Regions from separate parts of the Homo sapiens genome. Here regions 2 and 3 are each linked to region 1. Evidence: fine-mapped expression QTL. A gene starts in region 1. Each other region holds a variant in brackets. All regions are shown on one strand. Distances are from middle to middle.

Region 1 (4,108 bases):
AGATCAGAGAGCAGGAGAGAGCAGTTGAGTATTTATTCTGTGAGCTCCCTCCCTTTCAAGCCATGGCTTTGCAGAGGCTGTTCCCCTTAACCAAGGGCCACAGGTGCTGTGGAGCAGCCCTCTTCTATAGCTCCAAGTTCCCCAGGGTTCCCAGTTAGGGATGGTAATGGCCTCCCACTGTCAATACCCGCAGAGTGCTGCTTCGGCCTCCCCTGCTGGCCCCTCTGATCTCCACTTTGTGAAGTGGCTCTACATTCAGGCTGTCTTGAGTCACCCTCTCTGAGGATGCCATCTATTCTTCCAGGACCCTAATGGACACAAGTAAGTCATTTTCTTTTTCGCCTTTTAGAATGAGTTGCAGACAGTATTTCCATCTTAATTCAGCCGCCCCAATTCCCTGATTAATCTTGTGGGCCACCTTAAATTGGGCAGTCTGGGAAGATCTTTTAGAAGCAGTGAGGTTGAGGACCTTGACCTGGAGGATGAGGAGGGGCTTGCCGTTTAACGATCTGAGAGCAGGAATGCAGGTAGTGAGGTGGTAGGCAAGGGCAGAGGCCCAGGGGCCAGTGAGCTTGGCTTTTTCAATACACAGAAGCTTCAGGAACATGGCAAACAATACATGCAGTAACATTAACATAGGTAGGTGGTGTGCAGTTTATGTGCCTGTAAGAAATGTAGTGCTGACTTGTAAGAGGGTGTTGGCCTCTTTTCAGAATGAGGCCAACTTTTCATTCTATTGGGCATACACCAGACTTTAGCACAGAGCCAAGTCTATCAACCATAACCCCCGGCCATCTCAGGGGTTCCCCTCTGAATTAAGGGAAGGAGATGGAACATGTTAGCCAGAGGCACTCAACAGTTCTAAAAGGTGAGTATCCACAGAAATGAGACAACCAGAAGATATCCAGAGTGAGAGGGAAGATGGATATAACGTTATTTTTCTTAAAAAAAAATGGTTGGGGGGTTACTCAAATCACAAAGATCTGAACTGCTGGTTTGTTGTTTCATTTAGGTATTACAGGAGTTAGCGAAAGAGTTACTTGGGACCCATTTAGGACATGAATATGCCTGGTAGGAATCTGAACCCAGCCTGACTTCCAGCAGTTCTTCCCTTTCCTGCCAAGACTTGTTAGTGCCACTCATTCTGTTCTCTGGACCCAGGCTGTACGCCACAGCCTTCTTGCCTCAGCCCTGTGATTTAAATTTGCAGCAGAATCGCAGTACAGGTTAAGTGTGGTGCATACTAGATCATAATTTTTGGCCAAGTTGTGCGTCTAATACAGAATTAAGTCATCAGTTGAACAAGACTTGAAGTTCATTTTCTGAATCTTTCCCATTCGTTATAGTCTCAGTTTTCTCAAAAGCCCTCTCCAGGCCAGAAACAGTCTTACCATTTTTGTTTCCCGCACCGAAGTCCGGCAGCTAAGAACTCGTGAGAAGATTCTAAGGGGCGTATTTCTGTTTGGCGCAATCTCGACCCTGCCTCTCTAAATGTGAGTGCGCAGAGGTCGCTTTCCGCCACGAAGCGGCGCTAATCCACCACCGAGGACAGACCCACTCAGTTTTTTGCAGGATTTGAAGTTTTGAACTTTTACAAGTGTCAGAAAGGTAATTCACAAGTTTAGAGGAATGTGCTAAGGCACGAGTGGTGGGTGCTCCAGCCAGGGGTGGGCTGCAGAAGGGGCGCGGTGTCGCCGGGCTCCCCTCCGACCTCTGGGGTCCACAGTGCGGGCTTGGGCTGGGGAAGCCTCAGAGGTGCGTGCGGGGGCGGGTGCCGGCGCCCGGGCTAGGTGAGGGCAGAGGTGCGCGCTGCGCGTGGGATCAGCCCGGCGCCGACGGGTGGCTCCGAGGAGCTCGCTCCTTCCTCGCCCCCGCCCCCTCGCCGCGCGGGGCCAGCCCGGCCGCTCCTCCCCTGGGTGGGTCCCTGCTCCTTTTCTGGCAGGGTCTATTTGCATAGAGGAAACTGCCCAAAGTGGCCGCTGTGGAGGAGCTGGCTGCGGCGAAGGGGGCGTGCGCGGCGATCCGCTGCTACCCGGAGGCTAACCCCCGCGCCCGGCGGACCTCGTGCCTCGGGCTGTCCCGCCTGCTCCTCTCGCACCCAGCCTCTGCCCCAGCAGCACCGCCCCCTCGGAGAGTCCACGCGCGACGAACGCGCCATGGGCCCAGGCGAGCGCGCCGGTGGCGGCGGCGACGCGGGGAAGGGCAATGCGGCGGGCGGCGGCGGCGGAGGGCGCTCGGCGACGACGGCCGGGTCCCGGGCGGTGAGCGCGCTGTGCCTGCTGCTCTCCGTGGGCTCGGCGGCTGCCTGCCTGCTGCTGGGTGTCCAGGCGGCCGCGCTGCAGGGCCGGGTGGCGGCGCTCGAGGAGGAGCGGGAGCTGCTGCGGCGCGCGGGGCCGCCAGGCGCCCTGGACGCCTGGGCCGAGCCGCACCTGGAGCGCCTGCTGCGGGAGGTGAGCGTCTTGGCGCGTGGCTGGGGCGGACTTGGGTGTGTCGGGTTGAGGGTGGCGGTACGCTGGGAGCCGGGGGCAGCGTGCAGGTCTCTGGGAGGAGGGTCGCCCGCCGGCTGCGTGCGCTCGGGGCCGTCCCAGAGATGGGCACGTCTGCGCCAAGGCGGAGGCAGGGGGTGCCGGCCCCAAGGGGTTTTGCGGTCTCCGCTCCGGCCTCAGGGTCCCGTGCCAGGCAGGCGGCCGCGAGAAAGGGGAAGGAGAGACCAGGGACTTTGGAGTAACAGACCTAGGGTCAGTCTCCACGGGGTGTGCGCTCGGACACGCCGCTTCCCGCCGGCGGCCAGAGTCGGGGATAAAGATGAGGCTCGTGGGAAGTATCTGGTGACTGTGACCAGTAGCACCTACTGTTCCTAACCAACGCTGGTACACCTGGAGAGGCGGTGGTCACGGCGGAGGAAAGCCTCAGACAGGCCCGAGGGCTGGGCCCCGCTGTGCTCCAGTGTGTCTCCAGCAGCTCAGGCCCCAAGACTGAGCGGTCACCGTCGCACTGAGGCCTCGGGGATGGGGGTGGGGGCGCCCACATGACTTGGTAAGATGAGAGGAAGGAGAAACAATCGGGGGTGGAGGACCTGGATTCTGGTTTCAGGCGGTGCCATCTGGGGTGTGGGCTCGCAGGACATCCGGAGTTTCCCGTCCCTTACCTGGGAATCGCGACTTCCACAGCTTACTTGAAAGCTCATATGAGGCTCTGTGACACTTCTAAGGGTTAAGATTGCTGCTGTGTGTCTTCAAAGAAAGAGCCACCTTTGGGTCCTCCAAGCCCTCACCCAGCATGTTGGTCAAAGCCTCCGCCTTTTGTGTGCGGCATGTGCGGCAGTTCCCCTCCCCACGAAACTGGACAGGCCCTGGTGGGCTGGCCAGAGCCTCCCCTGCCGAGCCTTCCTCCTTCTCCTGGGATAGATGGCTGCTCCAGACCCCAAGGTCGCTGTCCAAGGGCGCATCCTCAATTGCTGTGTGAAAACAGGCAGGGTTTCAAGGTGGAGGAGAGGGAGCACTGGCCTGTACACCCCCAATTCCCTAGACTGCCCAGCTGGGATCTTTATTAACGTATCCAGCTGTGTTTCCAATGTTGAGTTCCTTTGGATTCCAAAGGAAAGTGGGAGAAGATGACTTGCGTACCACACCTCCTTGTTCACCCCACCTGTTTCTTAGTCACTTTAATTTAAGCTAGGATCACATCTCTTCTAGCTGGGTTCTGGGTAAAATTGCTGCTTCATGAAATGATTTCCTATTTTACCCTTGAAAGGGCCTGCAGACTTAAAACTCTCTCTCAGCCCTGCTGGAAACTCCTGGCGATGGTTTCATAATTGCCGCCCATTAGCTTTTGGCAAATGCCTGGAGACCAGGGTGTTGAATTGATTTATAGAGGGCCAGTAAAGTTTCTACCTGTTAGCGCTATAAGTGTGGCTGCTCTTTCTCATAGGAGGCCTCTCTTATTTGCTAAAAATAAACCGCAAGCCCTGATTGAGTAAATCAGAAGTCCTGATACAACCATTTTACAAGGAACTACAAATTGTGTCTATTTTAGGAGGGAGGGGCATCCTGGGCAGGCAGCCACTGCTGGGAAGTGTTGATTTTTGAGTCCTGAACTTCAGCGGGAG
Region 2 (4,108 bases), 350 kb after region 1:
TCCAATTCTGTGTCCCCAGTGTCCAGCCAACAGCCCGGTTCCTAGTGGATGTTAAGCCACCTTGGTTGGGTGGACGGACAGATAGATGAATGGACAGATGGGTGTGCAGGAAGTTGAGCCAAGGGCACAGAACAGAGATCACCATTTCTCATCCCATCAGACAGTGACATAACTTCCATGGTTTCCGGGGTCTCTGTCCCCAGCCAAGCCTAGACCAGTGCCAGCCGCGTCTGTGATGTGAGAGACAGCCCCTTGCCAGCAGCTCTGCCTGAGTGTTGGTGTCCAGCGACTACTTTGGAGCAAGCCCAGCTGGCATCGTAAATGCATGCTCTTCCTACATCAGCCTTGTACCCAGCAGTGTATCACCTACAGCTAGGGCTAGGCCAGCGTGTGCCACGAATATGCAGGGGGGAAAGTGGGCGTGTGGATGGGAGAGGAACAGAGATGAGCCGGTAACAGAGGGGCAAACCTCCAGCCTCATTTTCGGGTTTAGCATCTAATCCTTTTGTCAGGGTTTCCCTGGACCCCGAGGAGAGAAAGGTGATCGGAGCGAGCGTGGAGAGAAGGTGAGGGCAGCTGGACGGGAGCTGGGGCAGGAGGAGAGGGGGAAGGAGGCAGGTGGGAGTGGAGGCTCAGGTGAAGCAGGTAGAGAGAACCCAGGCCGGGCAGGTGGGCGGAGGCAGGGGGAGGCTGGCCCCACGCGCTTCTCTCGGAGAGATGTTGGAGGTTCCTAAGCCTGGCAGCCATGACCAATACCACCATCTCCCCTCCTGCACAGGGAGAACGAGGGGTCCCCGGCCGGAAAGGAGTGAAGGGCCAGAAGGGCGAGCCGGGACCACCAGGCCTGGACCAGCCGTGTCCCGTGGTAGGTGTCGGAGGAGGGCCCTGCCCCAGGTCTTTTTGGCCTCCAGCCAGGGTCAGCCCAACATCTTCCCTGTCCTCGGAACTCAGCTGCAAGTCCCAGAGGCCCCACTGGTCACGCACTGGCCTTCCTCACTGTCAGGGCCACTGCTGCTGCTACTGCCATCATCGCGGTTCCCCTTGCTCTGGTCCTAACCACCCCCAACCATGGGCATGACTCAGGGAACCCAGCCCCTCTGTAGAGCTGGAGGCCCAGCCCCTCATTCTTCACCCCCAGGACAGGCCTGGCTTGAGTAGGAACCCACTGTGGGCCATCTTGGGCTGGAAGTGGACAGGGCCTAGACCAGGAGTGGAGGGGCTTTACCTGGAGTCATCAGCACCATCAGCGGTGCCCTGGGAGGGGGCTGGGCCCTGCGGAGGGAACCAAAGTTAGCACAGACACGCTGCCGCTGGGGGCGGAGGCAGTGAGTGCCCAGCCCCATCGCTGTGGTCTGGCTGCCTGGGGTGGAAGTCGGGGTCTGACTCCCACTGGGCCTGAGGCCAAGCTGAGCTGAAACTCAGCTTCCCCAAGCACAGACGGTGGGACCACCCTGACCTCTCTGGCTGGCTGTGCCTCCCCTTCCTTCCTCCTTCCCAGAAGAGTCTCTCTGGGCTGGGGCAGCACCTCCCTCTTCCCCACATCCCCTCTGCCTACCCCCACACCCTTCCTGTACCTCTTTCTGTGCTCTCTCAGTGGCCTTTGGCAGCCCACCAGCCCCAGTGGTTTCAGGCACTGGTGCCTGAAACAACCACAGTTCAAAAGTCAGCTCCATTTATTTCTTTTCGGAGACAGAGTCTCACTCTGTCGCCCAGGCTGGAGCGATCATGGTTCACTGCAGCCTCCATCTCCCAGGCTCAAGTGATCCTCCTGCCTCAGCTTCCCAAGTAGCCAAGAACTACAGGCATGCACCACCATGCCCAGCTAATTTTTAATTTTTGTAGAGCTGGGGTCTTGCAATGTCGTCCAGGCTGGTCTGGGCTCAAGCGATTGTCCCACCTTAGCCTCCCAGAGTGCTGGGACGACAGGTGTGAGCCACTGTGCCCTGCCTAGTTCCTTTTTCTAGAAAGTAGGGAGGGTTTACATGTCACACTCTTCCGGTGGAGCTCAGAAAAGACAGGAAAAACAGAACAGCTGGGTTTTCGTACTAAAACTGGACAGATATTCAGACGTGGCCACTCCAGCCACGGGGATGTGTGCAGGCCGGCCTCAACCTCCAGCGGTGCCAGAGTTAGAGACCCCCTCCCAGACCTCTGGCCTCTGTTCCTCAGTGTCCTTATCCCTGCAGTGGGGGATACCGCTCCCCTCGGACAGTTTTGAGAAGTCAATGAGAAAAGGACTTGAAGAGCGAAGTGGTCAGCGCACAG[A/G]AAGGGCGGGGACAGCAGGGGCAGGGTGGCCCAGCCCCGCAGCTCCGGGGCCTGGCCCAGGACTCCCCTCCAAATCAGTAAGCCCTTGTCTCCTTTGAAACAGGAGAATCCCACGTGCGGAGGCCGGAGAGGGGCACCAGGCTGGCGGGGCCCTGCGAGGGGCAATGGGCCATGCCCTGCGGTAGGCGGCCTGGCCTGCTGTGTGCCGTGTGCCGTGTGCTGTGTGGGCCTTCGGGGCAGCCAGGGCCCTTGGCTCTGCCCCGGCCTTCCTCGCTTCTGCTTCCTTTCCATTCTGCCCCCCTCCCCACCTTCCCTTTGGTGCCTAGCCTGGTCCCTGGTGTACACATGGGAATATTCCAGGGGATGCCCAGTGTCTGAGGCTCATTCCTGTGCTTTGGAACAGAATGACATGTTTTGCGCCTTGGTGTCCCTGATGAGTCAGTCTTCGTTCCTCTCCAGTTTCCCCACCCTCCAGGCTGCCTGAGGAAACCCGGCCCCTGCTTATGTCTGGCTCCTGGGTGGGCACCACAGGTGCCGCTAGATAGCCCTACCCCAGGCCCAGCCCCAACCCCCAGCAACCTGAGCCTGCCCTGCTCCAGCCAGCACAGGCTGGAGCAGGATGCCAATTCCTGGGCCATCCTTAAAACCCTCCAGGAGCCATTCCTGCCCAAGGCCTGAAAGCTCGCAGGCCCCAGGGTGAGGAGCCAGAGTGACCGTCACATCAGGCAGGAAGCCACACGGCTCTCAGCAGGACCCAGGCCAGAGTCACTGTCACATCAGACAGGAAGCCACACGGCTCTCGGCAGGACCCAGGCCAGAGTCACTGTCACATCAGGCAGGAAGCCACACGGCTCTCGGCAGGACCCAGGCCAGAGTCACTGTCACATCAGGCAGGAAGCCACACGGCTCTCGGCAGGACCCAGGCCAGAGTCAGTGTCACATCAGGCAGGAAGCCACACGGCTCTCGGCAGGACCCAGGCCAGAGTCAGTGTCACATCAGGCAGGAAGCCACACGGCTCTCGGCAGGACCCAGGCCAGAGTCAGTGTCACATCAGGCAGGAAGCCACACGGCTCTCGGCAGGACCCAGGCCAGAGTCACTGTCACATCAGACAGGAAGCCACACGGCTCTCGGCAGGACCCAGGCCAGCCTGTACATGTCTGGCACAATGCTCATCCCTTCCTAGTGCCCTCCTGTTCCTGCCCACTGCACAGCAGTCCCCACAAAGCACAGAGGGAACACACTCAGGACAAGCTCAGTGAGAGGCCGTCGTTCCCCATGACCCCATGACCCCACTACCTGGGTGGACAGAGGAGGCATTGTGCCCCTGCCTCAGTGGGGCCCAGCAGTCTCACATGGCCGCTCCCTGGCCTGCACCTCCCTACAGACCAGGGGAGGGCATGTGGGGTGTAGAGGAGCTCCCCAGGCCCCATCCCCATCACTGAAACCTTCTTCCTTTCCAGGGCCCCGACGGGCTGCCTGTGCCTGGCTGCTGGCATAAGGTACCGTGCAGGGAAGTCTCCAGGGCAGGCTTGGGAGAGGCAGGGGAGGGTGGGGGAATGGGAGGGCCCCAGAGCCTGGGTGCTGTCACTCAAACCTCTGGGTGTCTGCGGCTTCTCGCACAGTGACTGAATAGCCAGGTTTCCCATCATGACCCTGGTTTTGACTCTCCCATCTTGCATGTGAGGCGTGGGGCTGTGGTCCTGGGTGATGGTGTATAACCCATCCTGTGGGTCACATGGACTCAACTGACACCTGGACCAGGCAGGGCAAAGCCATCAGTGCCCCCTGGGATATTGTCCCAACTGGCCCACTGAGAGGGAGTGGGGGGAGGGAAGATAGGA
Region 3 (4,108 bases), 120 kb after region 1:
TGATCATAGGTGAATGTTGGAAGAGTAGAAACAGTATAGTCAGTCGTCCCTTGGTATCTTCAGGGCATTGGTTCCAGGATCCCTCATAGGTACCCAAATCCAGAGATGCTCAAATCCCTCATATAAAATGGCATAGTATAATCCCAGCACTCAGGGAGGCTGAAGTGGGTGGTTTGCTTGAGCCCAGGAGTTCAAGACCAGCCTGGGCAACATGGCAAAACCCCATCTTCACAAAAAATACCAAAAAAAAAAAAAAAAAAAAAAATTAGCCGGATGTAGTGGCTCATGCCTGTAGTCCCAGCTACTCTGGAGGCTGAGGTAGGAGGGTCATTTGGGCCTGGGAGGTCAAAGCTGCAGTGAGCTGTGATTGTGCCACTGCACTCCAGCCTGGGTGACAGAGTGAGACCGTCTCTACAAAAATAAAGTCAAATGGCGTGTACTTGCATTTAACCTAAGTACATCCTCCCTCATACTTTAAGTCTCTAGATTACTTATAATACCTGATACAGTGTGAAAGCTATGTAAATATTGTTCTACTGTATTTTTATTTGTATGATTTTTTGTTGTGTTGTGATTTTTATTATGATTTTTTTTGGGGGGATGGCGAAGAGAGTCTTGCTCTGTCACCCAGGCTGGAGTGCAGTGGCACAGTCACAGCTCACTGCAGCCTTGACCTCCTGGGCTCAAGCGATCCTCTCGCCTCAGCTTCCTGAGTAGTTCGGATCACAGGTGCGTGTGACCACATCCGCTAATTTTTTAATTTTTGTAGAGATAGAGTCTCACTCTGTTGTCCAGGCTGGTCTTGAACTCCCAGGCTCAAGCAACCCTTCTGCCTCAGCCTCCCAAAGTGTTGGGATTACAGACATGAGCCACTGTGTCCTGCCTGTGTATTTTTTAAAAATATTTTCAATCTGCGGTTGGTTGAGACCGTGGATGTGGAATCCATGGATATGGAGGGCTGACTGTTCACTGGCTTTTGGATAAAAATCCCAGCTCTTCCACTGACAAGCTGTGCGATGCTGGGCAAGTCACTTAAGCAGCCAGAGCCTCACATTTCCCATCTACAAAATGGGAATACTAACACTTACCTTTAAGGGGTGGAAATTAGGACTGATGCATTATAAGCACCTGGCACCCATGGATGCTGCTGCAGCCGTTGCTAATATTATTAATATTGACAGTGCCTTACCTTTCATAATGTATAAGCCATATCTGACTGTGCATCAGAAATAGCTGGGAAGCATTTAAGAAAAATTACTGGGCCCCATCCAAGAACTCCGGAATCAGACTTTCTTGGAGTAGAACCAAAGCATGCTGGCACCTCACTTGCTCCTCCAGGTGCGCCCCACACCCTTATCCACCTGCTCTGGGCCCCAGGAGGCTGACTCCCCATTGGGACAAAAGTGCACATTGGGATAGACTGTGGCTCCCCATTGGGTCTCAGTTGATTCGACTGAGAGTCAGGATGGATCAGCAAAGGGATGTTCCTTCAAGCCCCTTTCCCACAGCTTTTCCATGCAGCTTCCTCTCTTCAGCGCCTGCAGTCCTTGGGGTTGTTTTAAACAATACCCAGGATTTTTATTTAAGACAGGGTCTCACGCTGTTGCCCTGGCATGATCATAGCTCACTGCAGCCTCGACCTCCCCAGGTCAAGCCATCCTCCCTCCTTGAGCTCCCACAGCACCGGGATTAGAGGTGTGAGCCACCAGGCCCGGCCTGCACCCAGGATTTTAATCAGCCATGGATTAAGATGACAACCATGGAGACAA[C/T]TGCTTGAAAGAAGAGTTTCTTACTGACGATTCGACAGCACAACAGGACCATATGGGGAAGCACCGGAGTCAGTCAGGGGGTGGAAGGAGCTGGGGCATGGACTGTGGGAAGGGAGGGGCGAGGCAAGCTGAGCAGGGTTCGGATTGGCCAGTTCAAATAATTCCAGTGGGCTCTGGGCTACAGGGCTGGTCTCTAGCTGTCACATACCTGGCCCATGGGTGATGAGGGCAGGGGTGTGAGAGTTACATAAAGCGGGTGGTTGGGGCACAGCTTTGGCTTGGTTGGTTTGATAGGGAGAGGCAGGTCCAAAGGCAAGGTGCTTGCTATCTCTAGGAGTTAGCTAGCCCCAGGAAGGGAGTCTCTCCCTGGCCAGCAAGGCCCAGAGATGTTTCACAGCATCAGAAAATATAAAAAGCAGGCCAAGGCACAGTGGCTCACACCCGTAATCCGAGCACTTTGGGAGGCCGAGGCGGGTAGATCACCTGAGGTCAGGAGTTCAAGACCAACCTGGCCAACATGGCGAAACCCCATCTCTACTAAAAATACAAAAATTAGCCAGGTGTGGTGGGTGCCTGTAATCCCAGCTACTCAGGAGGCTGAGGCAGGAGAATCACTTGAACCCAGGAGGCTGAGCTTTCAGTGAGCTGAGATCGCACCACTGCACTCCAGCCTGGGTGACAAGAGCGAGACTCTGTCTCAAAAAAAAAGAAAGAAAACATAAAACGCATGATTACTCAGGGGTGATAAATGCACCCACTGTTCCAACCTCTGGGAACTGCACTGTCCCTTGTGCACAGCTTCCTGAGTAACTCTCTCTTAACTGCTCTGCAAATTAGCCATTGGGGTGCCCTCTGTTTCCTGCAGGGACCTGACCAATACACGAGGAATCCCCAGGTGATCCCAAGGCAGCCAGGCACTGGAGCAGATGCTTTTTCAGAACCACTTCGTGCACTGCACAGAGCTGAAAGTTAGCAAAGCTCAGAGGGTCTGGTTGGATCTTCACAGTAAGTCTATGGAAGGAATATTTAGGAATGGACAAAAGTGCACACTCTGGGGCTCCTGAGGGTTCCCAGGTGACCGCAGCAGCCTTCACACAGGCTTCTCCAGCGCAGCTCTCAGCATGAACGGCCGCTCAGTGGGGCCCTGGAGGCGGTGGGCTCCTTGAGACAGGAGGTATCTGGGTCCAGTGTCTTATGGGAAGTGCCACTGTATTCTGTGGGAGCCTTGATGCTTCCAGGAATACTGGGGAAATTTCGGGATTTCCAGCCCAGCAGGCAGGATGCTTGTGTCGTATGAGCGGGTGTTTCCCCCATGGCCTCGTCTTTGACCCACGTGCTGGCTTCCATCCCCTCCCTGTCTTGCACCTCTGTGTTCTCTCTCACCCTCTGGCCTGTTAATGAGCTTAGATTTAGACCTTCCCAGTCTTCCTGCAGGGGCCCTCTGCTCGACACTGACGGCTTGCCGTGGCTTCTGGCTGGGGTCTGGGTGGGGAGCTGGGAGTCCTCACGTCCTGGGTTTTAGGTGGTTTGTCTAGGCAGTCTTTCCAGTGAGGAACAGTTCTAATTGGCGGTGGGTTTCCAGGGGTCTGCTCGGCTTATGGGCACTGTGCTTGCCCAAGGACACTGGCTCCTGGCTAAGGGAAGACATGGGGCAGGGGGCGTGGAGCCAGGTGGAGTCAAGAGCTCACGGTAGCGGACCAGGAGGGACAGACGCTGGATGGCCAGCTCAAAGCAAGCTTCGTCCCTGAGAAGTGCCTGGAGGAAGAGCTGCACCAGGTGTTGACCAACCAGGACTTTGCATTAATTTATGTGTTTAGCCCGCCAGCTGCTCTGTTAGGCAGATGTCTGCAGGCTGAGCCTCTCAGTGTCTGGATATGGAGATGATGGAGTACTTTGGAATTAGCAAGATAAAGTTTTAAAGGGACTGATTTAGCTGGCTAGAGTGACTGCTTGCACCGGTAGACAAATGGGGTGGAAATACTTTTAAATGAACTGTGATGATTGCCATGAGAAAGACCAGTGAGAGGAGGTGCCTGGGAAGATAAAAATCAAACCCAGTTAGCATGACGAAAGCTCCCTTCTGGCCTCTGCACAGGGGATGAGTGGTTGGAGACGGTTCCGTGGCCCGACCCTGCGAGACCATTAGGACTTTCAGGGGGAATGGCCACCTCCTCCCCACGACCGATTCTGGTTATCACCAGCGGCAGGCAGCTTCCCTCGGCGAGGGTCCTCTTGATGGCTCTGCAGACAGGACGGGGGCTCTCTGAAGAGGGGAGGTACTGGCGGAAGTCCCCTGGGCTCCATCAGAAATGTGGTTGGACATGAAGGCAGGTCCCAGC

Evidence for each region. PIP is the estimated chance that this variant, and not a neighbour inherited with it, causes the effect.
Region 2: its variant is fine-mapped to the expression of COL23A1 in whole blood (TOPMed, PIP above 0.99).
Region 3: its variant is fine-mapped to the expression of COL23A1 in tibial nerve (GTEx, PIP 0.93).

What each region holds. Positions count from the first base shown.
Region 1 is chr5:178,588,246-178,592,353 of GRCh38, reverse strand. It overlaps COL23A1 (collagen type XXIII alpha 1 chain), which reads left to right and starts at 1,961. Exons shown (of 29, transcript NM_173465.4): 1 at 1,961-2,450. The coding sequence starts at 2,157. RefSeq lists a silencer at 1,760-1,959 and an enhancer at 2,615-3,515.
Region 2 is chr5:178,238,799-178,242,906 of GRCh38, reverse strand. It overlaps COL23A1 (collagen type XXIII alpha 1 chain), which reads left to right. Exons shown (of 29, transcript NM_173465.4): 26 at 513-566; 27 at 779-865; 28 at 3,728-3,766. Among named protein-coding and RNA genes, the nearest start is that of PHYKPL, 8.1 kb to the right of the region's middle. RefSeq lists enhancers at 1,923-2,042, 4,043-4,092, 4,098-4,108. The variant A/G (reference allele first, on the strand shown) is at 2,266.
Region 3 is chr5:178,469,619-178,473,726 of GRCh38, reverse strand. The region is part of intron 2 of COL23A1 (collagen type XXIII alpha 1 chain); the gene reads left to right. It overlaps LOC124901148 (a long non-coding RNA gene), which reads left to right and starts at 887. Exons shown (of 2, transcript XR_007059080.1): 1 at 887-4,108. The variant C/T (reference allele first, on the strand shown) is at 1,770.